Linked DNA regions of Homo sapiens. The protein of the gene in region 1 interacts with the protein of each later gene in a biochemical or structural test. Each region holds a gene or a part of one and is shown in the gene's direction. Other genes may lie near its edges.

What was found.
Region 2: the proteins of GNGT1 (region 1) and SMO are reported together in a solved structure, tested with the Homo sapiens proteins (one study listed by BioGRID).
Region 3: the proteins of GNGT1 (region 1) and GNB4 form a complex in vitro, tested with the Homo sapiens proteins (one study listed by BioGRID).
Region 4: the proteins of GNGT1 (region 1) and PDCL form a complex in vitro, tested with the Homo sapiens proteins (one study listed by BioGRID).

What each region holds. Positions count from the first base shown.
Region 1 is NC_000007.14:93,902,209-93,909,576, forward strand, and holds the start of GNGT1 (guanine nucleotide-binding protein G(T) subunit gamma-T1 precursor), read left to right. Parts: upstream 1-4,358; 5' UTR 4,359-4,436; intron 4,437-4,527; 5' UTR 4,528-4,538; coding exon 4,539-4,634; intron 4,635-7,368. UniProt on the Homo sapiens protein: Guanine nucleotide-binding proteins (G proteins) are involved as a modulator or transducer in various transmembrane signaling systems.
Region 2 is NC_000007.14:129,183,775-129,191,650, forward strand, and holds the start of SMO (protein smoothened precursor), read left to right. Parts: upstream 1-4,858; 5' UTR 4,859-5,377; coding exon 5,378-5,708; intron 5,709-7,876. UniProt on the Homo sapiens protein: G protein-coupled receptor which associates with the patched protein (PTCH) to transduce hedgehog protein signaling. Binding of sonic hedgehog (SHH) to its receptor patched prevents inhibition of smoothened (SMO) by patched.
Region 3 is NC_000003.12:179,441,467-179,448,490, reverse strand, and holds part of GNB4 (guanine nucleotide-binding protein subunit beta-4), read left to right. Parts: intron 1-7,024. UniProt on the Homo sapiens protein: Guanine nucleotide-binding proteins (G proteins) are involved as a modulator or transducer in various transmembrane signaling systems.
Region 4 is NC_000009.12:122,825,579-122,832,759, reverse strand, and holds the start of PDCL (phosducin-like protein), read left to right. Parts: upstream 1-4,171; 5' UTR 4,172-4,289; intron 4,290-5,967; 5' UTR 5,968-5,972; coding exon 5,973-6,144; intron 6,145-7,181. UniProt on the Homo sapiens protein: Acts as a positive regulator of hedgehog signaling and regulates ciliary function.

The sequences.
Region 1 (7,368 bases):
CAAGGGCAGGTAGCATCCAGCACAGGAGAAAGATGTAGGCTGGGAAGCTAAGCCAGTCTAGCCTTTTCACCTTCTTCTGCCTGCTTTTTAATCTGCCTGCACTGGCAGCTGACTAGATTGTGCCCGCCCAGATTAAAGATGGGTCTGCCTTTTTCAGCCCACTGACTCAAGTGTTAATCTCCTTTGGCAACACCCTCACAGACACACTCAGGATCAATACTTTGCATCCTTCAATCCAATCAAGTTGACATTCAGTATTAGCCATCACAGTACCTAAATTATATTTATAAAATACAAAAAATCAGCAAATTATATAGACTAAATACAATATGAAAATATTCACCATGACTATACATAATGAAATAGATTTATGTATAGAATTACCACGGACATAGCAGCCGAGAATAGATACACATATATCAAGCCCATGCCTACATAGAGTGATATGATTTTCTGAAAGAGAAACAAAAATTATTGGTTAATGGTCTTCCTTTTATTTATATGCATTATTGTAAAAAGTGTATATAATAACCAAGAAAAATATTTTGTTTCTATGTAAAATGAAGTGAGTTTCAAGGTTCAAAGAACTATAAATATGGCTTTTGCATATGTGGAAGCCTGGCATATCTGACAGTCATGCTGAATGTGTCACATTTCATCTTATGCTGCAGGATCCCAGAAAATGCAAGATATCTGACATTCCTTATCCATACCCACAAAAATTATGGAATACTGTTATAAACAAGCTGACATATTTTCATGAGGGCCCCTAGGGGGCAGTATTGCCCCCATTGAGAACCAGGGATCTATGGATGGGATACAACTCAGAAATACTTCCCCCACTCCCACCCTCCTCCTGCCTTTTATTGGACCTTAGATACTCTGATGGTAGTGCAGGATGGAGGAAGAAGTGAAAGGGCAAACATCTCCTTAACTAGGGTATGCTTTCCCCCAGGCTGGCTGTAATAGCAGTCTTAGCTTGTTTGTCTATAGATCTTCACTCTTCCCCTTAAATTTTGACTAAAGTTGGGGTGGGGATGTTTGGCAATAGGGATAATAATCTGACCTAGTCTCTTAGGACTTTTTTGTGGAGAAGTGGACCAACCTGAAAGCTTAGAATATGAGGGGCAGCTTTAGTGCTATTTGTCATCAACTCCGGACTTTCTATGTAATTCTGGGGTATGAAGAAAGAAATCCACTCCTTTACACTAGTTTGAGAGAGACGTGCTGGAATGAAAAACACCTCAGTTCAGACATGCTGGAATGAAAAACAAACACCTGTATTGTAACCTCAGCTCCACTGCCTCTCATTGTTTAATTTAGGGCATTCAAACTCCCTGGAATGCCTTTGCCTCATCTGCAAAATGGAATAGGGAGTAAAGTAGATGATATTAAATTTGAATTATTTGAACCATTGACTTCAATATAACACTAAACATTTGGAATCTCCATGCAGACAATATTCACTGTTCTTCTTTGTGTCCTTGAAATAAGTGAAAATTTTGGTCCTCTTTTTTTCTCATATAAGACCTGTGCCATCAAATTTGGTAAGAATTCTAGAATCTTCTAATAATATGTTTGCCCTAAATAAAGTGTTTTAAATGTTTAATATTATTGAGCATGGTGAATCACAGCATTTTAGAGTTAAGAAATCATTTATTGATAAAATGAAGTTAGAAAAATTGGATGTTTTTCTATGTTTAGGTAAATGCATATGACATAGGTTAGGTGACTTTGTCAATACTTCCTGATCTCTTCTATATACCAAACAATATACAGAACAATAGAAAGTAATGAGGACGTAAAAGTCATGCAAGGTATGATCTCCCTTGTAAAGGCTCTAAAAATTCACTGTGTCTTCGGTTGGGTTTGCTAGAAGCAAAGCCTAAGACAGGAATTATTGGGTAAGAAAGTTTTCCAGGGCAAGCTCTCAGGAGAAACTGCTAGAGGAGTAAGGCTAGGGCAAGAGGAGAAGTTAGTCAAAAGTGGTTTCAGAAGTCTAGCATCATTCTAAACCCATGGAAAGGCTCTGGAAGTTTCTCAGTTACAACAAAGTTTTTCAGCCCAGAAGCAAGGGGGCTGGGCTGATAGGACCCCACATTAGCCAGCCTTTTGCTCCAAGTCAACCTCAGGGGTCAGATGGGAGCATAATCTCCCAGGCATCATCAGGAAAAGTGTTGCCCATCAGACAAGAGCCAACCTGAGCAAAAGGTTTGCCCTTGACAGTCAACACCTGCAGCTGCTGCGGACTAGGTATCTTACCCTGGAAAAAAAGGAGAGCTGGGCAGTAACATCTGGAATGCATGATATTAAAGGAGTCAAATTATGTACGCATGATCTCCTTTAAGTGTATCAGTAATATCACCTATCTTCTTTAGAGCACCTATAAGATCACATACATTATATGGCAAGGGCCATATAAGAAAGTACAGTTTGAAATTCTGGAAGCACAACAAAGTGAATAACACCAGCTAACACGTGCAAGTGCTTGCTATGTACTACACGCCATTACAAAGTCCTTACCTATGTTACCCCCATTTAATACTCTCAACAAATCTACAGGGTAGGTAATATTATTGCCCCTATTTCCCTGTAAACTAAGGCACAGGCAGGTCAAGTAATTTGGTCAGTGTCACATGGCTAGCAAGTACCAGTAAACGATTATTTTGTTGGTAAGTATATGAGAGGGCTTCCTGGAATAGAGAAAATGAAATTCTAAACCCAACACAAGATCTACTAAATTAGAATCTCTAAGGTTGGACTCATAACTTTAACGAGTTTCCTAAAGTGATTTCTGCACACACTGGAGTGTGAAGAGCCATTACCTAAAGGAATTAAAAGTTTTCCAAAATGAAGAAAAATTGTGCAAAGAACAATGTCAAAAGGTAAAAATGATCATCAAAAATACTTAATGAAGTTTTATATTTAGTCTAAAAGACTGGGAAGGAAGATGAGAATAAAATTTGGGTTCCCAAATGCAAAACAGGCTTATACAGGAAGAAATAACCTTTGTATAGTCATAGTGTTTCTTAAAGAACAGAATAGCAAAAATAAAAACATAGGACACATTGGGCTCAAGTACCCACAGTGTGTTATTTTCTACCTCTATGTTGGCCTATGTAGACATTTGTCCCTTAAAATTATCTTAAACTTGAGACCATCCTGGCCAACACGGTGAAACTCCACCTCTACTAAAAATAAAAAAATTAGCTGGGCGTGGTGGCATGCACCTGTGGTCCCAGCTACTCAGGAGGCTGAGGCAGAAGAATCGCTAGAACCCAGGAGGCGGAGGTTGCAGTGAGCTGAGATCGCGCCACTTCAGTCCAGCCTGGAGACAGAGCGAAATTCCTACTCAAAAAAAAAAAAAAAAAAAAAAAAATTCTTAAACTACTACTTATCCGGAGAAAAACAAGGTATTTTAAGACTGGGAAGGGAAAGAATCTTCCTTCAATGGTTTTGGAAATGAAAACACCATTTAAATTCAAGGAAATAAGTTAATTGCTGATAGATTATTAGCAGAGTATTTTCATGTAGATGTAAAATGTTATTTTGTTCTCTGAAATAGTATGTGATCTATATACACTTACTTTTATAATAATACTTCATTACAAAAATTGGACTAGGGAGAAGGAGGAGACACTATAGGTACAATGCCATTTGGCTACACTGAAATCTTTCCCAGGCAATTTCATAGGACTATCACCAGCTATTGAGCCTTCTTCCCCATTACTCACTGGTCTAATTGGGGAGAAGAGGAATTGCAAAGAGGGCAGAAGAAAGAGTCTGTTCTAGTAGGAGGTTATTGGTAGATCAGACTTGCTATGTCCCCTTTAGCCTGCTAAATTTTCTCATCATTGTTACCAGATTCATTGTGACAGTTACAGGCAAATTTCATGTGTTGTTGGAAAAACGCTCACAAGTAATACGCTAGTTTATTTCTGATTAATAAGACTGTTTACTATATTTCCATTCTACGGGTACACATTTAAACAATCCATTATTTATAATGAAATTATAGTGATACTTTTTATATGGTTCCCTTTTAATACCAGGTTAAATACTCTAGAGATTTAGGGAATTAATGGACCGTCATCCAAATGACCTCAAATTAAGTTAAATGACATAAAACATAGGTGGAGGGTTTTGGAATTGAAAGTAAGGATTGGAAACCCCAAATTTTACACTATACAAAAGACCAGGGGCAAGGAGGCGCTTTAAGTATTTTAGATTATATACTGACAAAACTCACCCCTCCCAACAAACCTGCTGAACAGGTGTTTGGAGTCAAATGCTTGACTTAATCATATTAGTGAAGATTAGGAAGAAGCTTTAAAATCCCAAGGCTAGTGTGCATTGCTAGAATTGTTAAGAGAGAGAGCTCATATGAAATTGGTTATCGTGGGATATTTAAAATAAAACAAAGAACAGTTTACTTTGTAAGTTAAGAGCTGAGGGAATTGTTGGCTAAGACTGACTTGAAATAACTCCAGCAATTCATGCATAGCTGCTAACCTTCTACATCTTCAGCAGGCAAAAAGATGCCAGTAATCAATATTGAGGACCTGACAGAAAAGGACAAATTGAAGATGGAAGTTGACCAGCTCAAGAAAGAAGTGACACTGGAAAGAATGCTAGTAAGTTGCTGCTTTCTTTAGTATTTTATTTTAAGCTAGAGATACTGTGGGAGTACCAGGTTAGAAAACATTGGCTGGAAAGGCTCAATGTAGTTACAAATAAATTGTTCATCTAAAAATTTATCAAAGATTAAGAAAATTGATAATCAATCATAACTATCTCTTGATTTAGATTCTAAATCAAGGAGGTTGGCAAACCATTTTCCTCTGGCCAAGCCCAATCCTTAGCCTCTTTTTGTATGACCACAAAGATAAGAATGCTTTTTCATTTTTAAAGAGAAGGGAAGAAAGAAAGAAAGAGAGAAAGAAGAGAGAGAGAAAGAAAGGGAAAAAGAAGGAAAGAAAGAAATAAAAGAGAAAGAAAAGAAAAAGAGAAAAAGGAGAATATGAGACAAAAACCATATTTTAGATAAGCAATAAAATAAATATACGCATGCAATAATATAGGCATTTTGTTTTTACTTTTCTAAACTTCTTTTTATAATGCAATATTTTGATATTGATATTTTGATACAATGTTTTGATATTGCTGCAATACTTTAAGCTATGATGTCAACCCCTCTCCACTGTCATGGTCAGTAATACATAAGTACATTCTACTCTTCTTTGGCAAATAAAGATGAGTTCAAACATAAGAACTCACTGGTTCCTCCTACAAACTTCTGACAAATCTTGGAAAGGGTTACCAACAGTTCACTGCCATTAGAAGGAGAAGAAATGGCAAAGGAATAAACCACCAAACAAACAGTGATGAAAGCTTGGAGAATGTAGATATGTATTTTAGATCACTTCATTTTAGGAAAGTTATTAACAGTAGAACAAAACCTCCACAAGTGGTAACAGCAATCTCATAATTTTAAAACATCTCATTTTATCAGGACAAAGTAAAAAAGGATCTTGTGTTATCTTCATACTTTGTTCAAAATGCCTGCTCCCAGTCAAAACTGGGATTTTGGGCTTCGTCTATGTTTATAATAATCTCAAACTCCCCTGTTGCCCTTTCCATACAGGCAAAACGTTTTGCTGTAAAGATAAAATTAAATCATTACTAAGGCTTAGAACATACACCAGACAAGTTAAAGTCCTTATTTTTACAATTCAGGGTAAATAAAATGAACTTTTAGGATAAAGAAAAGTTTTCTCTTCTTAAGTTGAAATATCCAAAAGCTGTTTTATTATTTATGTACTCAGGATTATTGTTTTGTAGGCAAGGTGATTGTCTTCGTGTTTATTATTCACTTGTGGTAAGTTCACCTTGGACTTTTTATTTTGGGTAAACATCGCATACATCATCATTAATCAGGCTTTGGGGTTCCTTTTCCCCATTATTCAATGTCTCTCTGCTCTTGGAAGTCAAACCAATTTAATATCAGACTGCAAAAACTCCATATACATACACACACAAACACACATGCATATAGATACACATACATATACATGTACCCTCTTAGTCTCCTCAGGGTGCTGTACCAGAGTATCATAGACTGGTGACTTTTAACCAACAGAAATGTATTTCTCACAGCTCTGGAAGCTGGGGCATCCAAGATCAAGACATCAGCAGATTCAGCGTCTGGCGAGGGCCTGCTCCCTCCTTCATGAACACCTGTCTTTTCATTTTGTCCTCACCTGGTGATAGGGATGACGAAGCTCTCTGGGGTCTCTTTTATAAGGACGGTAATCCTATTTATGAGAACTCTGTCTTCATGACCTAATTACCTACCAAAAACCCCACCGAGGGAGTTAGGAGTTCAACAAATGAATTTATATAGTGTGTAGAAATATGTATGTAATATATAGAAATATTATTTCTCTATAAAATATATAATAATATGTTATATTATATATAAAATGGAACTTCCAGGTCCTGAGCCCCTAGCTCTGATGTATAATCAGTACAGTATGGTTAAGTGGATATACTCAGTATGGGTAAGTGGTTAAGTGGATAATCAGTACAGTATGGTTAATTGGATATACTCTGAAACCATATTCCCAGCTCAGATTCTTGCTCCACAACAAATTTTTGCCTGTGCAACCCTCATCTATGTTATCTAACTCACCTGTGCCTCTGTTTCTTCAAAATAGCGATAGTAATAGCATTTAATTCAGAGGATAATTGGGAGGAATAAACAAGATAATATACACAAAGCTCTGAGAACAATGCCTGGTAATAGCAAGTGCTTTATGTCATTATATTATTATTATCTTAAAATTATTATTGATTCTATGAACCAGACTGATTCATATTATTGTGATTTTTTTTGAGTACGACAAGTCTTTGCATCCAGTTTCTGAAGCTGATAGATTTGCAATGACTATAAGTCAATGTAATAGGCCATGACTAAAGACAACCTTTGTAGTAATAGCTAAAAATAGTTACTATTTGATTGTGCATCTTCTTGTGCCAGGCACCTCTTAGGCATTTAAGGCAACCAATGCAGCTATTCATATTTTATACATGAAGTAAATGAACCTTAGATGAATTACCTTAACTAAGACTAAATAGCTAGTAAATGAGAAGAGTCTTGCAATCCTATGTTAAACTACATATATTTATATTAAGCATCACTGAAATAATTTTTAAACCTATACACATATATAATTTTAGGTAATTTGTTGCTCCTTTCATTCTCATATCCTCAGATCCCAGCCAGGCACCTTCAAAACCAATCCCTTATGGACTACTGAATTAAGGACAGCAAGTTACACCTCTGTTCCTGTCATCTGGGTGAAGCCA
Region 2 (7,876 bases), about 35 Mb from region 1:
GAAAAAGAGGCTGTTGGAATTTTGATAAGGATTGTGCTAAATCTGTAGATCAATTTGAATTATATTGACTAACACTGTTAAATCTTCCTATCCTTGAATACGAAATGTCCTTTCACTTATTTAGGACTTCTTTAATTTCTGTAAGCAACATTTTGTACTTTTCAGTATATGAGTCTTTTACCTCCTTGGTTAGATTTATTCACAAGTATTTAATTCTTTTTTTTTTTTTCTGAGACGGACTCTCGCTCTGTTGCCCAGGCTGGAGTGCAGTGTCGCAATCTCAGCTCATTGCAACATCCGGCTCCCGGGTTCAAGCAATTCTCCTGCCTCAGCCTCCCAAGTAGCTGGGATTATAGGCACCCACCACCACGCCCAGCTAATTTTTATATTTTTAGTAGAGACGGGCTTTCACCATGTTGGTCAGGCTGGTCTCGAACTCCTGACCTTGTGATCCACCCATCTTGGCCTTCCAAAGTGCTGGGATTACAGGCATAAGCCACCGCACCCAGCCGTATTTAATTATTTTAGATGCTATTGTAAATGGTATTACTGTTTTAATTTCCCTTTCAGGTTATTCATCACTGGTATATAGAAACACAACGGATAATTTTCTCATTTTTGGGAGGGAAGAAATTGAGGCTCAGAATAAGTTGCTCAAAGGTGCATGGCTAGTAAGGCCCAACTCAGGGCTCTTAATTCTGAATCTATCGTGCTGTCTCTCTGAAGAGGTTGCTTATTGGGCCCCTTTACCATTTTGCCCTTTCCCTTTGACTCAATGCTCTTAATTGCAAAATAGGAAGCACTGGGAAAAGAAAGAACTGGAGCACAGCCGGGTGTGGTGGTTCACACCTGTAATCCCAGCACTTTGGGAGGCCGAGGTGGGCAGATCACCTGAGGTCGGGAGTTGGAGAGCAGCCTGGCCAACATGGTGAAACCCCATCTCTACTGAAAATACAAAGATTAGCTGGGCATGGTGGCAGAAGTCTGTAATCCCAGCTATTCCGGAGGCTGAGGTAGGAGAATCGATTGAACCCAGGAGGCGGAGTTTGCAGTGAGTTGAGATCGCACCACTGCACTCCAGCCTGGGCAACAGAGCAAGACTCCATCTAAAAAAAAAAAAAATTGGAGCACTGCAACAGTTATGTTCCGAATTTTGCCAGTGTAACAACTGAACCACAGGAGGCAGCCATGGTCTCAGTGATACCCATGGATACGTTCACATCAACCCTCTTTGACTGGAGGGCCCACAGGCAAATGACAGTCAACATTGAATTTGTGACCTCAAAATGCCAAAATACTTTATGAGAATGACTCAGAAATCAAGAAGCTACTTGTAACAAATCAAGTACTGAAATGCATTGTCAACACAGGACAGCCTCTCATCCCTGAGAAAAGGATTGTGTTAGGACATGCAGTTGAGGCTAAGACTCTTGAGGAACTGGGTGGGGTGTGGCTCAGGCTTGCTTGGGAGAGAAGCACTTTGCAGCCTGCCACCAGGCTGGAGACCTGAGTGTGCCAAGTCACTCTGCGTAGTCTAACAGACACTGGCAGTCTTGTATGTCTACAGGAGGGGATGCATGAACTTTCTCCAGGAACCTGAATACCATTCACGAACGACTGGGAAATTCCCTCTCCCCAGTCCCCACTGAACAGTTTCCTTCTCTCAAATGACAGGATTCCTGAATCTCTTTCTACTTCCTTCTATATCTAGGAGATAGCACATCGCTGCAGCTGTCACTAATGGGAACGTGGCCTGATAGCTGTGGACAGTACTAGCAGCATTTTCTCAGTCTGCCTTCCTGCTACCCTTTGCTAGGCCAGCAGGATTCCCACAAGGGAATACTGAAGTCTGATGAATAGGAGCACATGTGTGCATGAGTGTACACACACACACACACAAACACACACACACACAGAATTGAGAACTTATGGTATATTCTCCCCTCAAGAAGGGAAGAGCATTCTGGCTGGAAGATAGTGTCTTAGGATAGCCTCAATTTACCTCTGCTATCTCCAATGTGAAGGTATTATATTCCCACAATGCGAATCTTCCTCATACTTCCTGAGAAACCTCACACAAGAAATGGGAGAGCCTATATCCTTGAAGAATTACCTACTGACATTTGGAGTAGAGAAATAAGGGCCTGCCTGAGCACATGTGTAAGTTCTTCCCTAATACATGAAATATTAGGAAAATCCCACAGGGCTTCGAGACTGCCACAACCAGATATTTTACTCTTGCTCACTCAGGAAGGTAAAGAGAAAAGCAAAAACAAACAAAACAACACACACACACAATCAAATAGAAAATAAGTGCAGATAGTTCACAAAGCAAAGCATCGGGTGTGCTATCAGGCTCCAAGGCAGCTTTCTCTACAGCTTGGACTTAGACATGTTATAACAGCCATTTTATTATGTCACAGAAAGAAATAACTGAAGTAGGTCATAACATTTCAAATTATTTTTCCAGTAGGAATATTATGCCCTGATGACATAGTCTAGTTTCACTTCTTCCATAAGTCACCAGAGACTTTCCTTAAAATGGTCCCTTGTCTCCAGCCTCTTGCACTTCATGCCATCCTCATGTTGCCTTATGTATTAGTCTGTTCTCGCATTGCTATAAAGAAATACCTGAGACTGGTCAGGTGCAGTGGCTCACACCTGTAATCACAGCACTTTGGAAGGCTGAGGTGGGTGGATCACTTGAGGTCAGGAATTTGAGACCAGCCGGGGCAACATGGTGAAACCTCGTCTCTACTAAAAATACAAAAATTAGCCTGGCGTGGTGGCATGTGCCTGTAATCCCAGCTACTCAGGAGGCTGAGGCAGGATAATCATTTGAACCTGGGAGGTGGAGGTTGAGGTGAGCCGAGATCACACTGCTGTGCTCTGAGATCACACCACTGTGCTCCAGCCTGGGCGACAGAGCGTGACTCCGTCTGAAAAAAAAAAAAAATACCTCAGACTGGGTAATTTATAAAGAAAAGAAGTTTAATTGGGTCACAGTTCAGCAGGCTATACAGGAATCATAGCAGCTTCTGCTCCTGGAGAAGCCTCAGGAAACTTCTAATCATGGTGGAAGGCAAAGGGGGAGCGAGACATCTTACATGGCAGGAGCAGGAGGAAGAAGCGGGGAGGTGCCAAACCCTTTAAACAATCCTCGTGAGAACTCACTCATTATCGTGAGAGCAGCACGAGGAGGATGGTGCTAAACCATTCATGAGAAACTGCCTCCGTGATCCAGTTACCTCCCACCAGGCCTCACCTCCAACACTGAGGATTACAATTCAACATGAGATTGGGTGGGGATGCAGATCCAAACCATATCACCTAATATTAACCAGTAAAGATTAATATCATTCCCCTAGTCAAAACTTTGAGATTTCCTTACTATCAAGAGAATTGACCCTTAATTCTGTGTGTTATTTGAGGCTTCTTACCAATCAGTTTCCCTACTTATCTATGTCCTTATTCTAACTCCTCCTACTCACACTTTAGTCCTGGATTCAAAACCCACCTCCTCCACTTCTATCCACACTGACCTCTGTCCCCTATTCCTATAGCATACTCACGGTACATCTCATTTTGGCAGCTTATTTATCAAGTGATTACTATGTATGCTCAAGTGAACTAGATGTTTTGTGAACACTAAGAGAATGAGATAAGGTCCCTGACCTGAAGGAGGGAACGTTGCTGTTCTGTCATGCTATGTTTCCTGAGAGCAAGCCATGTATCCACAGGAAAATGGAAGTCTACAGGTTCCTCCAGGATGTCTCTGTGCTATGTACATGCTGGAATTTCAGAAAGACTTGCTAAATTGAATTAAATTCTCTCTCTCTCTCCAATTGATATAGTTGAAGTGCAATAACTAATATGCACTTAAACTGTCCAAAGTAACAGAACTAGTCCACTACCGCTAGGCCATGAGCAAGTCTTCCAGGGGTAAGAAAGGAAAACCCACCCTGGTGTGCAGCCCGATCAGCAACAAGGAAAAAGTTGCTCAGTGCAAGTCTACTCTCCTGTTTGGAGCCTTGTGGTTATGCTGGGTTATACTTGGTTGTGCAGGTGTAAACTGCTGAAGTGGGAAATTAAGTGTGGTGACCAAAAGTGTGATGCTCAAAGGAGTGAGGAAAGGCAAAATGAGCAGAGTGGGGAAGAGGAGCAGCAGAAACCTCCCAGAGCAGATGAGCAGCAGGGCCATCAAAGAAGGACTGGTTTCCTTCTCACATAACCAAGGCCAGTCCCTGGGAACCACAGTTCAGACTTCACATATTTGTAGCAGTAAAGGCTTGATGTTGGCAAGTTTATTTCCCAGACACCTGTTCCCGCAGGTAACAGCAGCCAGAGCAGCTGCCGTGAGTGACTCTGAGGTCGTCTCTCTCAAAGGTCCCGAGCTGGAAGGATTTGGAGAAGCGCAAACCCCAAACCCAGGTTCTTCTCCATGGGGCCCCGGGATACGTTGGAAAATCTAACCAAAGCAGGAAAAACTGGCGGGCCTGGAGAACGGGGCAGAGATGGAACAGAAGTCCCCGTTGACTTCAGGCATCCCCTGTCTTTCCCATCCTGAGCCAGGAGAAAAGTCCGCTTCCTGCAGACGACCTCAGACCAAGCAAGGTGCCCGCCGAGTCTCTCCTTGCAGGTCCGGCCCACGATTTCCACTCATCTCTTTCCCCCGGGCGCGGGGCGGCGGCAGGCGGGGTCACCAGATCCCCCTAGCCCGGGCCCCTCCAGGCGCCAGGGACGCTGACGCTCGCGCTCTTCCTCTCTCGCCTCCCCTCCCCACCTCTCCGCTCCTTCGTCCAGTCCCTCCCCCAGCCTCGGCGCAGGGGGGCCGGGCTTGGCTCCGCGAGGCCCGTGCATTCCAGAGAGCCCAGCGAGCTAGAGCAACAAAGGAGCCGGGTCGCCGGCGGGGAGAGTTCGGGGGGCTGCGGCGCGCTGGGGCGAAGGTGGCTGCTGGGCCGCGGGCTGGCGCGGGGGCGGAGCCGGAGCTGCACTCGCACCCCCGGCCCGCGTCTGGCCTCCCTCGCGGGGCGGGGAGGTGGCTTTAATGGTGGGAGAGGGAATGGGGCTGGGGATTGGGGGCCCAGGGGTCTCCTAGGGCTGAAGACAACTTGGATTGCGAGGCTAGGGCTTGGGGAGTCGTGCATCCCGTTCCGGGCCTCCGCAGCCCAACATGGGCCCCGGGTTCCAAAGTTTGCGAAGTTGGGCGCCGAGGGGCCGGGGCGCGCGGAGCGTCCGGGGGGGCCCGGGCCCGGATTCTCTGGGCGCACAGGTCGCCTGAGCCGCCTCCGCGGCCGCCGAGGTCGTGCGTGTGGCCGGGGGGCTCCGAGGAGCAGGCGGGGGCGCCGGGGCTTTTGCTGAGTTGGCGGGGTTGGCCATGGCCGCTGCCCGCCCAGCGCGGGGGCCGGAGCTCCCGCTCCTGGGGCTGCTGCTGCTGCTGCTGCTGGGGGACCCGGGCCGGGGGGCGGCCTCGAGCGGGAACGCGACCGGGCCTGGGCCTCGGAGCGCGGGCGGGAGCGCGAGGAGGAGCGCGGCGGTGACTGGCCCTCCGCCGCCGCTGAGCCACTGCGGCCGGGCTGCCCCCTGCGAGCCGCTGCGCTACAACGTGTGCCTGGGCTCGGTGCTGCCCTACGGGGCCACCTCCACACTGCTGGCCGGAGACTCGGACTCCCAGGAGGAAGCGCACGGCAAGCTCGTGCTCTGGTCGGGTAAGTGCGGCGGAGCCGGGTCTGGGGGGCGGGAGGTGCCGCGGTAAGATGGGGGCACCCTTGGAAAGAACAGGCTCAGGCCTGAGTTTTGGAGAGGGCGGGGACAGCACCCGGGAGAGTTGGAGGGACAGATCCCGAAACTTTGGGGGCAGGTTACGTGCAGGATGGGACCCTCGGTCATGGGAAAAGGAGGGCAAGGAAGTTGACGAAGCGGGTCACAAAGGGCCTGAGCTGGTGGGTGAGCAAAGGATGGCGGGGATGAGGGGCCCGTGAGGAGGTGGCTCTAAGCCACGGGAAAAGACATTTTGTAAGAAGAGGAGATGCTCCACCTATTCTGGAAGCAGGGTGCCGGGGGATTCAAGGAGGTGTTGAAGACCCTGGGGAAATTGGAGTTGGAGAGGAAAAGGGGAGGGATGACGGAGGAAGAGGTTTAGACATTTGGAGGGAAGGGTAGGGGGACATGATCGAGTGAAGTTTTGAAGGAAAAGAAACCTCCCTAGTGATGAATTATTAAAAGGTAACCAGAAAGTTCTGGAAATCTTGATTTGGGAGACAGGAATGAAGCCTAGAGAACTGTGATCTTGTCTGGCTTTCACGGGAGATTTCATTCAGTTTGTGCATCTGAAAAACCGGCCCTCTGACGCATGCAGGAGGTTATGAAGGAATAAGACCTTTCTAACAGTTATTTGTGTTTTCTTTGGAAATTTGGTTACCGAGGCTGGTCAGGGCTGTGGAAGGACGCTTAAGTCTGGAGTGTTGAGAGCCTGTGGACACTTCCATGGTGGTTTGAAGTCCCAAAGCCCCCTCACTGGAGTGGCAGAGTCTGAAAAACTGCACACTGAACCCAAATGTCCTTCCTTAGCAGTGTGGAGTATACTCTCCCCCACCTGTCACTTTTCTAGATGAGGCTTGGAGGGTGCTGAGGAAGGGAGCTGGCCTTATCAGCCCTCGCTTCTAGCCAGTATGATTCTAAAACTGTCCTGGGAAAAAGAAAAGAAAACCAGGAGCCAGGAGCAGAACTGGGAGCCTCCCTCTTTTGACAGGGCTGGGGTACCCCATCTCTTAGCTCTGCCCAGGGGGCTGGTGAGGACCCTAATGTAGGGAGTGTATGTAGGCCGCCTGTCATTGACAAGTTCTCGGCCTTTGTCAGATGTTGGACAAGGCCATAAGGTTCCTGGCTTGGTGCAGATGCTGGAGGAGGAACTTGGAGGATGGTATCCATGGTACCCATGAGGAAGAGCTGCATCCTTTTTGGGGATCAGGTTCTAAAGTCAGCACAGCACATTAGACAGAAATCATGTGTAAACAACAGTGGCTTTGAAAACTCTGCAGATTACCATAGTGTAAGGTGGATGTGGTTTTGCATATACACTTCTTTTACGATGTTTGCATACATGTGTTACATGTATACTCATATATAAGAATGGGTATACATAGAAGATAAAATAATTGTAATTTTAAAGTTACATTCATGCAAAAGACTGAAATAATAATAATAATAATAAAAAGAACACCAAAGTGAGATTAAGCAAGATTGCTTTGAGCACCACCCAAAATGAGACTTGAGTTTAGGAGCCAGCTGTGTGGAAAGTCCAAATCTCTCAGCACTAGAATCTCACCCAGTTCTGAGTTGCTCATGCTGTCAGAGGATAATCTTTCTGTCCCTCTCTTTATTGATTGTGCAAGGACCCATGGTTTAATTTTCCCAAGTTAAATGCATGTTTGATGTTGCCTCTGTGTAGTTACCATCAGATCAAGGAGGAAGGGTATGAACCTCTTTCCAGCCCATACTCTTGAGAGCAGCTGCTGAGCAGACAGAAGTAGTTTAAGCTGGAACATGTATCAATTAGTACCATCTGCAGGTTGTGCAGGTTGAAATCTCACTATCTGTGCCTTTTGGCAGGGCAGGGTCCTACAGAGATGCCAGCACTGAGCCCAGCACCGTTAGTTCCATTAGTTCACTATGAGTTCTTCTCTGCCACCAACCACCATCCCTCAGCTCATTCCTGTTTCCATATGTGTTCTGGTTGCACTCTTTCTGCTTGGGACTTGCAAGTAGGGCAGAAGCAGGTGTTGGCTTGAGCTGGGTAATGAGTAGGTAGAGTGAACCCAAGCCTCGTGTGAGAATCACAGCCAGGTCAGCTGGTAGCCTCTGGCAAGTGATTTAT
Region 3 (7,024 bases), on another chromosome or scaffold:
AAGAAAAAAAAAAAAACCAAGTAAGTTTTGAGCACAGGATTAAAGATTAAAGAACTGAAAAAATAATCTTGAACTCTGTGTAGTAGGCTATTATTTGTATGGTAGAGGTGTAGCAATTCTGAAACTATTTTGTGTGCATTATAGGATTGAGCAAATGAGTAAATTCATTGATATTTTGGGAACTAGGGTTTCCAACGTGGAAGAAGAGAAATGAAAACATGAAACAGGCCAGGCGCGGTGGCTCACACCTGTAATCCCAGCACTGGGAGAAATGAAAAGTTAAAAATAAAACTTCAAACAATAACAATGCAGCTTTGCTTCAAAAAGAAAATCTTTGAAGGGACTCCATGTAGGCTGTCTCTACTCCTTATCTGCCATCTTCTTCTGAACCCGCTTCAGAGACACATTATCCCTCCTACTCCATGAAACAATTCTTCTCCAGGTCACCAGGGATGTCAGTCTTGCCAAACTGGATCTTCAGCCACATTTGACACAGGCAACAGATAACTCCTTCCCTATCAAAATGTCGTTTCCCCTTGGCTTCTGGGACACCGCTCTTTCTGATTTTCATCCTGCCTCATTGGCTACAGTTTCTCATTCTTCTCCATCTCAGTCAATGGTACCACCATCCACCAGTTGCTGAGGCTAAAAATTCTAATTCCCCATTTCACTCATTCTAAATCTATTCCTTCAACAGCAAGTATTATGGGCTCTACCTTCAAAATCACTGCAGATTGGACCATCTTTTTTAAAAAGTTAATTTGACCATTCCTATCACCTGCACTGCCACCACCACCACCCTGGTGTCAAACTGTATTCTTCCCTGGCCTGGATGACTGCAGGAGCCCCCCAACTGGTTTGTCAGCTTCCACTCTCTGTCTCCCACCAGCCAGCATGAACTTTAAAAGAGGTAAATCAAAGCAGGTTATATCTCAGTCGTCAGAACCCATTATTGTTAGATAAAATAAAAACGTTTTAGCCAGGCGTGGTGGTGCATATCTGTGGTCTCAGCTACATGGGAGTCTGAGGCGGGAGGATTGCTTGAGTCCAGGAGGTCAAAGTTGCAGTGAGCCATGTTTGTGCCTGGGCAATAGAGTGAGACCCCATCTGAAAAAAAATCAGGATTTTTTTTTTTTTTTTTTTTAATACCATGATCAAGAGACGGTGACTGGGCTCTGGCACACCCTTCTAGTCTCATCTGCTGCTCTCTGCCCTGCTCACTCTCTTCCAGCCTCGCCATCGTCACTGCTGTAGGTCCAGCATGTCAGGTTAGTTTCTGCCTGGGCCTTTGCTTGCTGTTCTGCCTGTAATGCTTTCTCCCAATGAAGACATAGCTCATCCTCTCATTTCATTCAGTCCTTACTTAATTTATTTGAAAATAGCCTTCCTCGTCACCCTCTAACCTCTTGAAGTTCTTGCAGTTTTTTTCTTGCATACGACTTATCTGTACTTAAAATTATGTTATTGATGTGCTGTATTATTTATCTCCTAGACAGATACAGAACAAAGCACTGTGGCAATAGGAAGTTTTGTTTTGTTTACTACCGAATCTCTAGAGCCTAGAATATGTTTGGCACATGGTCGGGACTCAGATATTTGTTGAATGAAGGAATGAATGCATGAATTAATATTTGTTGTATCTTAGCTAATGCCGTTTCAAATGGAGAAGACGGTTTCCAGAGAATCTTACAGCGTTAGTGCTACGTAAGGTGTTTGGTGATGCTGCTACAGCTTCTCTGAAAGCTAACAAGTTACCAACTTTGAGTGTTTTCACGTTATCACCTTTCTTTTGTATGCCCTCTGGTGGAGTGATGATAATAAGCGGCAAGTGAGTAGAATAGGTCAAGAAGAAACTAAAATACAAGAACCTAGATCACAAACTGGATAATTAACTTAAAAAAAATAGATTTGAAAATTTTAACTTTAGTTAAGCCTCCTGAATAATTACAATACGATTAGAAAGAATGAAAAGAAAATGAGCCACAGATTTGAAGAGAGATCTGGCTTAGGATGAAAAAATAACCTATTGAGCACACCCAAAATGTTTGGATCTCTTAAAAGAATTCCTGCTTAAATATACTTCTGTCCCTTGAAGTATTTTAATATTTTTCCATCTTTAGTTCAAAGACCTCTTTCTCTCAACTGTAGTAATAATTTCAGTGAACCTTTATTGACTACCATGTGTCGGTTAACGTACACAAGTGGTGAAGCCAGTGTTCAAACTCCAGCAGTGGAGGACCAGAGTCAGTGCCCTAAATCTTCATGCTTCACTACCACCTTTGTGCCAAGGTCGTGTGGATGGTACAGGGACCGGAGAATTTCCTTTGGAGCAATAGTTATGGACAGAAAAATGCTTGGTAAGTTCACAGTGTGTGTTCCTCAGTTCCATTTTCCAGTATGTTTATAGAGAGCCTTTTCTTCCAGAATTGCTGAAAGATGTGTTATTTTATCTTTTTTGAAATAGAAATCACATGAAATGTTTCTACACTCAGATGCTACTGACTTGCTGAAATAATATAAAGTTTCTCTTAGTGTCTATATTTCATATTTATGGCAGTAACAGCTTAATTGTTCCTCCACTTTTGGCTTTAGCAGGGTTTGTTCATATACTGTGTAGTTATTACAAAAGAAATGTAGTATACCTTACTGGGTAAGGACAAACTCCCACTGAGATGCTTGTCTTACTTGCAGTAGGAACCCTCTAAAAAAGAATTCGCTCAGAAGATATCATTATTCTTAGTATCTCTGCAAGTCAGAGCGCTGTCTTCTTAATAGCTGCATAATATTTCACTGTATGAATGCATCATAACTACTCTCCTATTTATATTTTTAATTTGTTGTCATATATACAATTGGTTAATGAATATCCTTAAACATTAATTCTTACCTATTATGCAAAAGTGTTGGCCAGTTGCAGTGGCTCATGCCTGTAATCCCAGTACTTTGGGAGGCTGAGGCAGGCAGATTGCTTGAGCCTAGGAGTTTAAGACCAGCCTGGGCAACATGGTGAAACCCCATCTCTACAAAAAAATACAAAAATTAGCCAAGCGTGGTGGTGTACGCCTGTAGTTCCAGCTACTCGGAAGGCTAGGGTAGGAAGATTGATTGAGCGCAAGAGGCAGAGGTTGCAGTGAACTATGATCATGCCACTGCACTCCAGCCTGGGTGACAGAGGAGACCCTGTCTTAAAAAAAGAAAGAAAGGAAAAAAAAGTATAAAGTACTCTTTTTAGAGGCCTTACTGTTTCTACTCTCTTACTTTTAGCTTGTCATGAATTTTCAGCTGTGGAGAAATTAATGAAATCTACTTTCTCTATGGAACAGATTCTATCAATTTCTCTATAGCTGAAGAAAGAGAGAATACTACTTTGGGAGGGACAAGATGAGGACAATGGCCTCTATGCTCAAAGAACTAATAATTGCTAGGCTCTTATATAGGATTTTTAATTTTTTTTTTTAATGGCAACACTTAGCAATGGCTTGACTCATTTTTTTTCTCCTTATTTTTATATTCAGTTTTTCAACTAAACACCTTTACCCAGAGATTGTTTAAAATATGAAAATTTGTCATTAACTACTTGGTAAGTGAAATTAAAAACCCAGTAAGGCAGCTTAAGCTGAATGAGGTTTTATGTCTAATTGGCATGTGACGTAAATTATATACATTATGTTTAGGATAGTTAAAAAGGCTTACCGTGGCTAGTTTTTATAAGGAAATAATTTAAGACATTCTAGAATTCTGCAAATTAAATTATATATGTATGCATGTATATACTTTTTGAGACAGAGTCTCTCTCTGTCACACAGACTGGAGTGCAGTGGTACGATCATGGCTTACTACAGCCTTGACTTCCCAGGCTCAAGCAATCCTCACATCTCAGCCTCTTAAGTATCTGGGACTATAGGTGCATGCCACCGTGCCGATGAAACTGTGTATTTAAATGGAACATGGTAGGCAGTTAAGTACTTGAGGAAATTGAAATTTGTCAACAAGGGATCTTAGTTATCTGTATTACGTATTAAAAGGGCTCTAGGGAAGCGGTTGAGAGGTTAAAAAAAAAAAAAAAACACCCTGAAAAATGTGATCTCCTTGCCGTGTGGTCTAAAAAACAAAAAACTTAGTAATTAAAAATTTTAAACTTAGATATTAGTTTTCATGGTTTGTGTTAACCTTACTATGGGAATTAAAATTTATGAACAGGAGATTTCATTTGGTTCATTAATTATTGAATATATCACCAGGGAAACTCTTTGGGGGGAAAAAAATGAAAAAACCACAGACTCCTCCTGGCTGTAAGACATAAAGAAAATAGAGATAGGTTAGTATGTAAATTTCATTCATGTTTATGTGTTGACTCACCTTTTAATGCAAAAAAATCTTTGCAAAGGTTTTAGAAATGATGAGACAGATTATGAGAGGATGCTGAAGAATCGGGGGGATTGTGTGTTCCCTTAAGGCATTGAAGAGCAGTCTTGGTATATGTGATAGAGAGTGTTGTAGGATAAAAACGTGAATAGGAAAATCAGCAGTAGAACAAAACTAAATGGGACTAAATGTAACTAAAAATGAATATTCTATTCGAACTGCATGGTAGAGATAAGACCCTTTGAATGATAGATTCCGAGAACATTAGTGGTGGGGTAGAGAATTGGGGATGGGATAGAATCCCAAATAACTTCAGTTATTAATTAGCTGCTAATCTAAACCTGAGACAGTAATTGTATAGTATTTTTGTAAATGAAGTGTCATCCTGAGGTAGCAGAGATGGATATCTGCTCATCTCAGAACAGTATCACCATAAGTACACTTGCTTGTTAACTAAAACCTCTAAAATTTTATCTTATAGGTAGGCATTATGGCTTTGTTAAGAAAAATGAAATCTACAGTGAAAGACACTGGATGCTGTATTCTATTTCTACTTATTGGTAACTTTAAGATATTTTACCTGTTTTTTTGAGACGTCTCACTCAGTCACCCAGGCTGGAGTACAGTGGTGAGATCTCGGCTCACTGCAACCTCTTTCTCCCAGGCTCAAAAGATTCTCATGCCTCAGCCTCGCAAGTAGCTGGCATTACAGGCATGCACCACCACACCTGGCTAATTTTTGTATTTTTAGTAGAGATGGGGTTTCACCATGTTGGCCAGGCTGGTCTCGAACTCCTGACCTCAGGTGATCCAACTGCCTCAGCCTCTCAAAGTGCTGGGATTACAGGCATGAGCCACTGTGCCCAGCCATAAGATATTTTACTTTTATTAAAGCTGTGAACATAAGAAATTGTAGCTACTTTTCCGTGACTATGGTAATTGCACATGTTAACATTTTGTCCTATGAAGCGGAGTTAGCAAATAAGCTAGATGGTAATGCTTGTGAGGCACTCATAAACATTTGTTGGATGAAATTCTGATATCCCCAGTTGTCATATTCTAACCCTTTAATGGTGGGATTGATTTTTAAAATTTTTGTATGTAACCAAAAATAATATATAACCAAGTCTGGTAAATTTAAAGGGTTGTTTCTGGTAAAACAAAAGCAAGTTATGTGACTTTAAGTGATACAAAACTGCCGGGTATGGTGGATCACACCTTTCATCCCAGCTACTCAGGAGGCTGAGATGGGAAGACAGTCTGAGCTCAGGATGTCAAGACAGGCCTAGGCAACATAGTAAGGACCCCACCTCTAAAATTTTTTTTTTTTAATTAGCTTGGCATGGTGGTGCATACCTGTAGTTCCAGCAACTTGGTAGGCTGAGGTCGGAGATCGTTTGAGCCACTGGGTTCAAGGCTGCAGTGGTGAGCAAGGATGGCAGTGCCACTGTGCTTTAACCTGGGCGACAGAACAAGACCCCATCTCTTAAAAAAAAAAGTGACATAGGACTGTGGCTTGGTAACACAGAGATAACTACATGTGGTCGTATAAAAAAAAATCCAAGAGATAATAATGCTTGAGTGGGTCATGTAAGAAAAGACAGGCTAAGTGTATGATTTTAAATTTACATAATCATAATTTATGTTTCTAATGTTTAGTTCACAAAATCTTAGAGTACTAAAACCAAGAGGCTCCTCTTAGAGAAGGTAGTTTTAGGACTAAGTAAAAGGAAATGCCCTGCTATTTTACAGAGCTGACGTAAATTGACAGAACTTGTTACTTTTAAGAAGTAGTACAGGTGAAAATATAAGCATACTAAAAATGGGTTCAATGAATTCATGGACAATAGTTTCAAAACGTATTGTGTAAAATTTAAGAGAAATCCTTAGTATGTTGAGTTCAGCCACATTCTCATAAACATTTGGTTTCAATGACGTAATACTTTAAATACAAGTTCTGTCATAGCATTTACACTGTAATATGATTATAGTGATGAGCCCCATAACGATATTTCAGTCGGCCGGGCTTGGTGGCTCACGCCTGTAATCCCAGCACTTTGGGAGGCCGAGACATGTGGATCACCTGAGGTCAGGAGTTTGAGATCAGCCTGACCAACATGGTGAAACCCTGTCTTTACTAAAATACAAAAATTAGCCAGGCGTGGTGGCGGGCACCTGTAATCTCAGCTACTCGGAAGGCTGAGGCAGGAGAATTGCTTGAACCCAGGAGGCGGAGTTTGCAGTGAGCCGAGATCGTGTGCCACTGCACTCCAGCCTGGGCAACAAGAGTGAAACTCCGTCTCAAAAAAATGATGTTTCAGTCAGTGAGTTGACTGTATATAGGGTGATGGTCCCAATTTTTTTTTTTTTTTTTGAGATGGAGTCTCACTCTATCACCCAGTCTGGAGTGCAGTAGTGTGATTTTGGCTCACTGCAACCTCTGCCTCCCGGGTTCAAACGATTCTCCTGCCTCAGTCTCCCAAGTAGCTGGGATTACAGGCGCCGGCCACCCAGCCTGGCTAATTTTTGTTTGTTTGTTTGTTTTTGTATTTTTAGTAAACACAGGGTTTCACCATGTTGGCCAGGCTGGTCTTGAACTCCTGACCTCAGGTGGTCCACCTGCCTTGGCCTCCAAAATTGCTAGAATTACAGGCATGAG
Region 4 (7,181 bases), on another chromosome or scaffold:
CGGATCATGTGGTCAGGGGTTCGACACCAGCCTGACCAACATGGTGAAACCCTGTCTCTACTAAAAATACAAAAATTAGCCGGGTGTGGTGGCGCGTGCCTGTAATCAGGAGCGTGTGCTACTCAGGAGGCTGAGGCAGGAGAATTGTTTGAAACTGTGAGGCGGAGGTTGCAGTGAGCCGAGATCGCACCACTACACTCCAGCCTGGGTGACAGAGCGAGACTCTGTCTCAAAAAAGAAAAAAAAAAGGTTGTTTAATCTGATTTTTAAATAAGAAAGACATTCTGTTGCAACAGATGGAACACCCTGCCATACACACACCACCACCACCACCAGAGAAGGAAAGTTAAGGTGAGAGAGAAAGAAAGAGAAACAAGGGAGGGGAAAGGACAAAAGGAGAGGGAGCAGAAAAGGCACAAGGGAAGAGAAAGGAAGGGAAGGAAAAGAAAAATAAAAGAATTCAGGAAATGAAGAAAAAGAAAGAAAAGACAAGACAGATGGGCAAGCTGTTTATCTCAAACAGTCCTCATATGGTTTGGTGTCATTCAAAATCATCTCTGGACCTTTAATTCTTATAGAAAAAATAAAGTAACAGGACAAATTTGTTCTAAATTTACAAAAATATTGGTAGAAAAAATCTAACATGAGAAACTCATTGTAAGACCAAATCTTGTTTTGCCTCTGTTATGATTTGGAAAAACTGTAAGAGTGGATCAAGTCTTGGAACTCATGCTTCAAGGAATTTAATCATTTATTTTATTTATTTATCTAGCTATTTATTTATTTATTTTTTTGTGGAGATGGAGTCTCATTCTGTCTCCCAGGCTGGAGTGCAGTGGCATGATCTCAGCTCACTGCAACCTCCTTCTACCGGGTTCAGGTGATTCTCCTGCCTCAGCCTCCCAAGTAGCTGGGATTACAGTAGGCATGCTCCACTCAGCCCGGCTAATTTTTGTATCTTTAGTAGAGATGGGGTTTCACCATGTCGGCCAGGCTGGTCTTGAACTCCTGGCCTAAAATGATCTGCCTGCCTCAGCCTCCCAAAATGGTGGGATTACAGGCATAAGCCATCGTGCCCGGCCTATTTAATCACTTATATATGAATTTCATTCAGTTACTTCAAAATTTTAAATATTTTTAAAAATAGCCTATAAATCTGGTTGGATCAAGGTTTCCCTTGCTTAAAGATAAATGCTTTAGCCGTCACAAGACAGCTCATGGGTTGTTTTCCCCACTAGGGAATACCTTTAATATACTCTACTGATAAACAGCCCAACAAAAACCTTACAGTAGCGGTAAAATACCTTTAAAACTATAAATTACATACAGTATGCTCATTAAACAGAAACTTCATTATCCACATCATTCCACATTTCTTTTTTTTTTTTTTGAGACGGAGTCTCACTCTGTTGCCAGGCTGGAGTACAGTGGCATAATCTCAGCTCACTGCAACCTCCACCTCCTGGGTTCAAGCGATTCTCCTGCCTTAGCCTCCCCAGTAGCTGAGACTACAGGCGTGCGCCACCATGCCCAGCTAATTTTTGTATTTTTAGTAGAGACGGGGTTTCACCATATTGGCCAGGATGGTCTTGATCTCTTGACCTCGTGATCTGCCCACCTCGGCCTCCCAAAGTGCTGGGATTACAGGTGTGAGCCACCATGCCTGGCCCATTCCACATTTCTAACAGGAAAAATGAGTGGTTCTGTTGGATATTATTAGATAGCTAACTCATGTACACATATTCCTGACAGATGCAAGCTACATTCCCAACAAAGACATCACTATATCTATACAACCAGGAGACTGAATATATTAAAAGGTCTGAATTTGAGACCAACGTGGGCAACATAGCAAGACCCCATTTCTACTTTTTTTAAAAAAGGTTGAATATGGCCGGGCGCGGTGGCTCACGCCTGTAATCCCAGCACTTTGGGAGGCCGAGGCGGGTGTATCACGAGGTCAGGAGATCGAGACCATCCTGGCTAACACGGTGAAACCCCGTCTCTACTAAAAAATACAAAAATTAGCCGGGCGTGGTGGCGGGAGCCTGTAACCTGGGAGGCGGAGATTGCAGTGAGCCGAGAATTGCGCCACTGCACTCCAGCCTTGGCAACAGAGTAAGACTCCGTCTTAAATAAATAAATAAATAAATAAACCAGTGTCGGGCAGTTCTTTATAGCAGTATGAACTGCCTGACACTGGGTTATTTATTTACAGCAGTATGAAAACGGACTTATTAATACAGTATTCTTGAATGGGTGTGTGTTTGTGTGTGGTATTTTTTGACTCCTCTGAGGGCCTCAGCAAACAGCCTCTCTGAAAACAGGCAGGTACAGAAATTTGCAGACAATTTCAGGTGGTCCTAGAACCACAAATTAAGATCCCCTACCCCAAATTAAGAGCCCTATTTTAAACAGTGTATCTTTCTAGAATATTTTCTATGATTCAATTTACCCAAAGCTTTCTATGAGCAACTTCACGGTTGTGTATTGGATACTTCAACAAGGGCTCAGAATTTGAAATCATTTTAGGTTTTAAAAAAGTTGCAAAAACAGACGACAAAGTATGCCTGAGGAAAAAGAAAAAAAAGTTGCAAAATATCATAGTATGGCTTTACCCTGGAAGAAGAAAACAAAGTTGCAAAAATAGGATAGTGCTTCCCTAGATTCTTCATCTAATAGAATCTCCAAAAGTTCACATCTTACATAGTATAATTATTAAAACTATTGATACAATACTACTAATATGAATTAATAGGCCTTATTCAAATTTCGTCAGTTGTCCCATTCATGTCCTTTTTATTTTTCTTTTTTGAGACGGAGTCTCAGTCTTGACCCCCAAGCTGGAGTGCAGTGGTGCGATCTCAGCTGTCTGCAACCTCCGCCTCCCGGGTTCAAGCGATTCTCCTGCCTCAGCCTCCGAGTAGCTGGGATTACAAGTGTGCACCACCATGCCCGGCTAATTTTTGTATTTTTAGTAAAGACGGGGTTTCGCCATGTTGGCCAGGCTGGTCTCGAACTCCTGACCTCAGGTGATCTGCCCGCCTCGGCCTCCCAAAGTGCTGGGATTACAGGAGTGAACCACCGCACCCGGCCCCATGTCCTTTTTCTATACCAGGAGCCAATTCCGGATTTCACATTACATTCCTGCTCTGTCACCCAGGCTGGCCTCCAAGTCCTGGGCTGAGCGATCCTCCCGCCTCAGCCTCCTGCGTAGCTGGGACTACAGGCGCGCGCCACCACTCCTGGCTGCCGCTTCTTTAAAATGGTGAAACCCCGTCTCTACTAAAAATAGAAAAAATTAGCCGGGTCTGCTGGCGGACGCCTGTAATCCCAGCTACTCTGGAGGCTGAGGCAGGAGAATCTCTTGAACCCGGGAGGCGGAGGTTGCAGTGAGCCGAGATCGCGTCACTGCACTCCAGCCTGGGCAAGAAGAGCGAAACTCCGTCAAAAAAATATATATATATATTTTAATCTATGCCCTGTACTTGAGGGATTTGTGCTCTCGGGCAAATTACCGAACGTCTCTGAGTCACTTTTCCGTCTAATAGACGTGATGCGATGAAGAACCAATAAAAAACACACTTTGAATGGCTTCGGAAACTTCGAAGGGAAGTGAATACATTTTTCTTTTCTTTCTTTCTTTTTTTTTGAGACAGTCTCGCTCTGTCGCCCAGGCTGGGGTGCAGTGGCGCGATCTCGGCCCACTTCAACTTCTGCCTCCTGGGTTTAAGCGATTCTCCTGCCTCAGCCTCCCGAGTAGCTTGGATTACAGGCGTCGGCCACCAGGCCCGGCTAATTTCTGTATTTTTAGTAGAGACGGGTTTTCAACGTGTTGGCCAGGCTGGTCTTGAACTCATGACCTTAAGTGATCCGCCCGCCTCGGCCTCCTAAAGTGCTGGCATTACAGGCGTGAGCCACCGCGCCCGGCCTGTGAATACATTTTTCTTATTGCTTGACGCTGGGTCATACAATTCACTTTTTTGTTGTGCAGATTAAAACCAAAACAAAGCAATTAGGAGAGCGTTGTTGTCGAGGTGTTTTGTTCCAAGGTAGGACCCGTAGCTTCTCCCCTGCCCCTCAGCTGGGAGTAGCGGCTTCTGATTGGACAATGCGCGTCCGCCACGACGCAGGAAGGCCGCCTCATTGGTCCGCGCTGTCGGGCTTCGGCGGCTTTTCTCTTTAGCGCTCAGGGCGCTGACCCACTGCTCTTCCTCTTAAGAAAGTGCTCCATTCCTTCCGGCGCCCGGAGCTGCTGGCCCAAAGGGATCCGGAGCGAGCTAGGGCAGGTAACTGCATTGGGGTCCACCGGGAAGCGGCAGCAGCTGCGGACTACGGGAGGGAGTGGGGTTGGCGAGCTTGGGTAAAACTGCCCCTTCTTCGCTCTGTCTCGACCCCCAAGTTCTCCGCGTCTTCCTCGTCCCCTTTCCTCCTCTGGCCCCACCTCCCCCGGGCCCTTCCAGCCTTCCCCCAAAAGCTCCACACACCCCTCTGCTTCCCGTCCGGGGGCCCCGCCTCCTCTGCTCGCGTCTCCAGGGGGCCCGCCCTCGTCTCCTCCCCGCAGCGGTCCCTCCTTTAGGAGCGCAACTCCTTCCCTCCCCTCCGCCGCTGCTGTGTCCCCCGCTTGGCCCATTCCTGGGCCTTAAGTTTGGTTTTGTTCCTTCTTGGCACCTCCACCTGTCTCTCCATGATCCCTGTCTCCTTTGCATCTGACTGCTGGAGTCCTCCGATTCTCCCGTTGACCCAGGCTGCGAGTTTAGCAAATTGTGCAGCGGCATTGTGCTGGGCTTTGGGGATAGAGGTAGTGACTAGAGGTCCCTACGTTCAAGAACTCCTTGCCCGGTGGGAGAGAGTCACTTTGTAAATGGAGTATGATAGGCCCGGTGATAAGTCTTTAAGGCAGCCGCATTCCTGCTGAATTCTCAAGCAGGCCTCTGGGGGCTAAGCTGCATCTTTTCATCAGAATGCCCTTGGCTACTTCTGATGCAGAAGCCTGGTCCTTTATATTTTTAGTTTTTATTTTTTTTTGAAACAGAGTCTCGCTCTGTCTCCCAGGCTGGAGTGCAGTGGCGTGATCTTGGCTCACTGCAACCTCCGCCTCCCGGATTCAAGAGATTCTCGTGCCTCAGCCTCCTGAGTAGCTGGGAAAACAGACACCCGCCACCACACCTGGCTAATTTTTGTTTGTTTGTTTGTTTGCTTTTACTAGTAGAGACAAGAGTTTCGCCATGTTAGCCAGGCTGGTCTCGAATACCTGGTCTCAAGTGATCCTCCCTCCTCGGCCTCCCTAAGTGCTGGGATTACCTGCGCGAGCCCGGCCATCATAGTCCTTTAAACCCTTGGGAGTTATTAAAATCTTTGTATGGGCCCTTCTTTTAAACTGTCAGAATAGGTAGCGTTTCAGAGACCATCCATCCAAGCCCTCAGGGTGTTGTCTGGGAAGTTGAAGGCTGGTGACAGAGAGTGATTGCCTAGACAAATAGTGACTCAGCATTGTACTCTTGATGCCTCTTTTTGGGGTTTTTCCTGAGGATACTTAAACAATTTTTCAATTAGGCAGCAGTCTTAGCTGGTGGGAAAACTAAAAGCACAGATAAAACCACTAGTCAGTAGATTCCTCCAAGCCAGTGCAGGTGGCTTGTACACTTAACTCAGACTAGAGTAATTTATACCTCAGGCTCTTGGAGTCAGGAATCCCTGGGGTCTGGTCCCAGCTCCGTCATTCGCTGTTAAGCTTGGTGAAGACTCTTCCTTTATCTGAGCTTCAGTTTTACCTTCTGTTAAAGAGTGTGATAAGCCCTAACACACAGGGTAACGGTAGGGATTTGTTAAGATTTTGGTTATGAAAATAATCACTTTAGTGTCCTGGAAATTGTAGGATCTCAGCACAGGCGAGCCCCCTATGCTTCAGATTCATGTCTGTCTGGCTCAAATCAGCAAAGAACCTGATATGCTTTCTTTTTCCAGACACCATGACCACCCTTGATGATAAGTTGCTGGGGGAGAAACTGCAGTACTACTATAGCAGCAGTGAGGATGAGGACAGTGACCACGAGGACAAGGACCGAGGCAGATGTGCCCCAGCCAGCAGTTCTGTGCCTGCAGAGGCTGAGCTGGCAGGCGAAGGCATCTCAGTTAACACAGGTACTGAGAAACCCTGGGCTCTGGGAACAGGCTTAAAAAATGTACATTAAATACATATTAATTAAATACATATTAATAAATTAATTCTCCTGATCACTTTTAACTCTGGTCCCACTTTCAGAGGTAACCTAGTCTTTTCATTATGTGTGCTTCTAGCCTTTTAGTGCACAATACAAATGTATGTGCATAGCAGCATGGTAATGAACACAGACTGGCCTGGATTTGAATCCTGCATCTCGTATTAACAGTTTGATATCTCATAAATCACAAGTATGAGTATATGGGTAGTGCAAATTCCTAAAAATGGCATATTTACACTTGTACATTTTAATATTGTCAAATTGCTGTCAGTTGAGTTGAGGTGGCAGTAGTTTATAGTTTAATCAGCAATCTGTGTTTCTCCGTACACTTGACCTCCTACTGTGTTATGAAACTCCTTGATCTTTGCTATTGTAGTAATTCATTGTAGGTTTATTTCCGCCCCCACCACCTTTTTTTTGTTTTGTTTTGTTTTTTTGTTTTTTAAGACAAGTTCTCACCTTGTTGCTCAGGCTGGAGTGCCTTGGTGCCATAATGGCTCACTGCAGCCTCAACTTCCTGAGCTCAAATGATCCTTCTGCCTCAGCTTCCATGAGGTTCCTCTCTTAAAAAGCTGGGACCACGTGTAGCTGGGACCACAGGCGCTTGCCACCGTGCCCAGCTAATTTATTTCTTTATTTTTTGTAGAGATGGGGTCTCACTTTGTTGCCCAGGCTGGCCTCACACTGCTGGCCTCAAGCGATCATCTGCCTCAGCGTCCCATAGGCATGAACCAATGCACTGGGCCCATATTTATTTTTAAGAGGGAACCTAAACTTCTTTTCATAATTTTAAGAGAGATTTTTATATCCTTTGCTCATTTAAAAAATTAGGTGTTTTTTTTCTTCTTGGGGAGCTATAAAGGAAATTAATCTGTGATATGAGTGGTAAATATTTCTTTCAGTTTGTTGTTGTCTTTTGACTTTATATTCTTTTGTTCTTTTCCTGGATGAAAAATT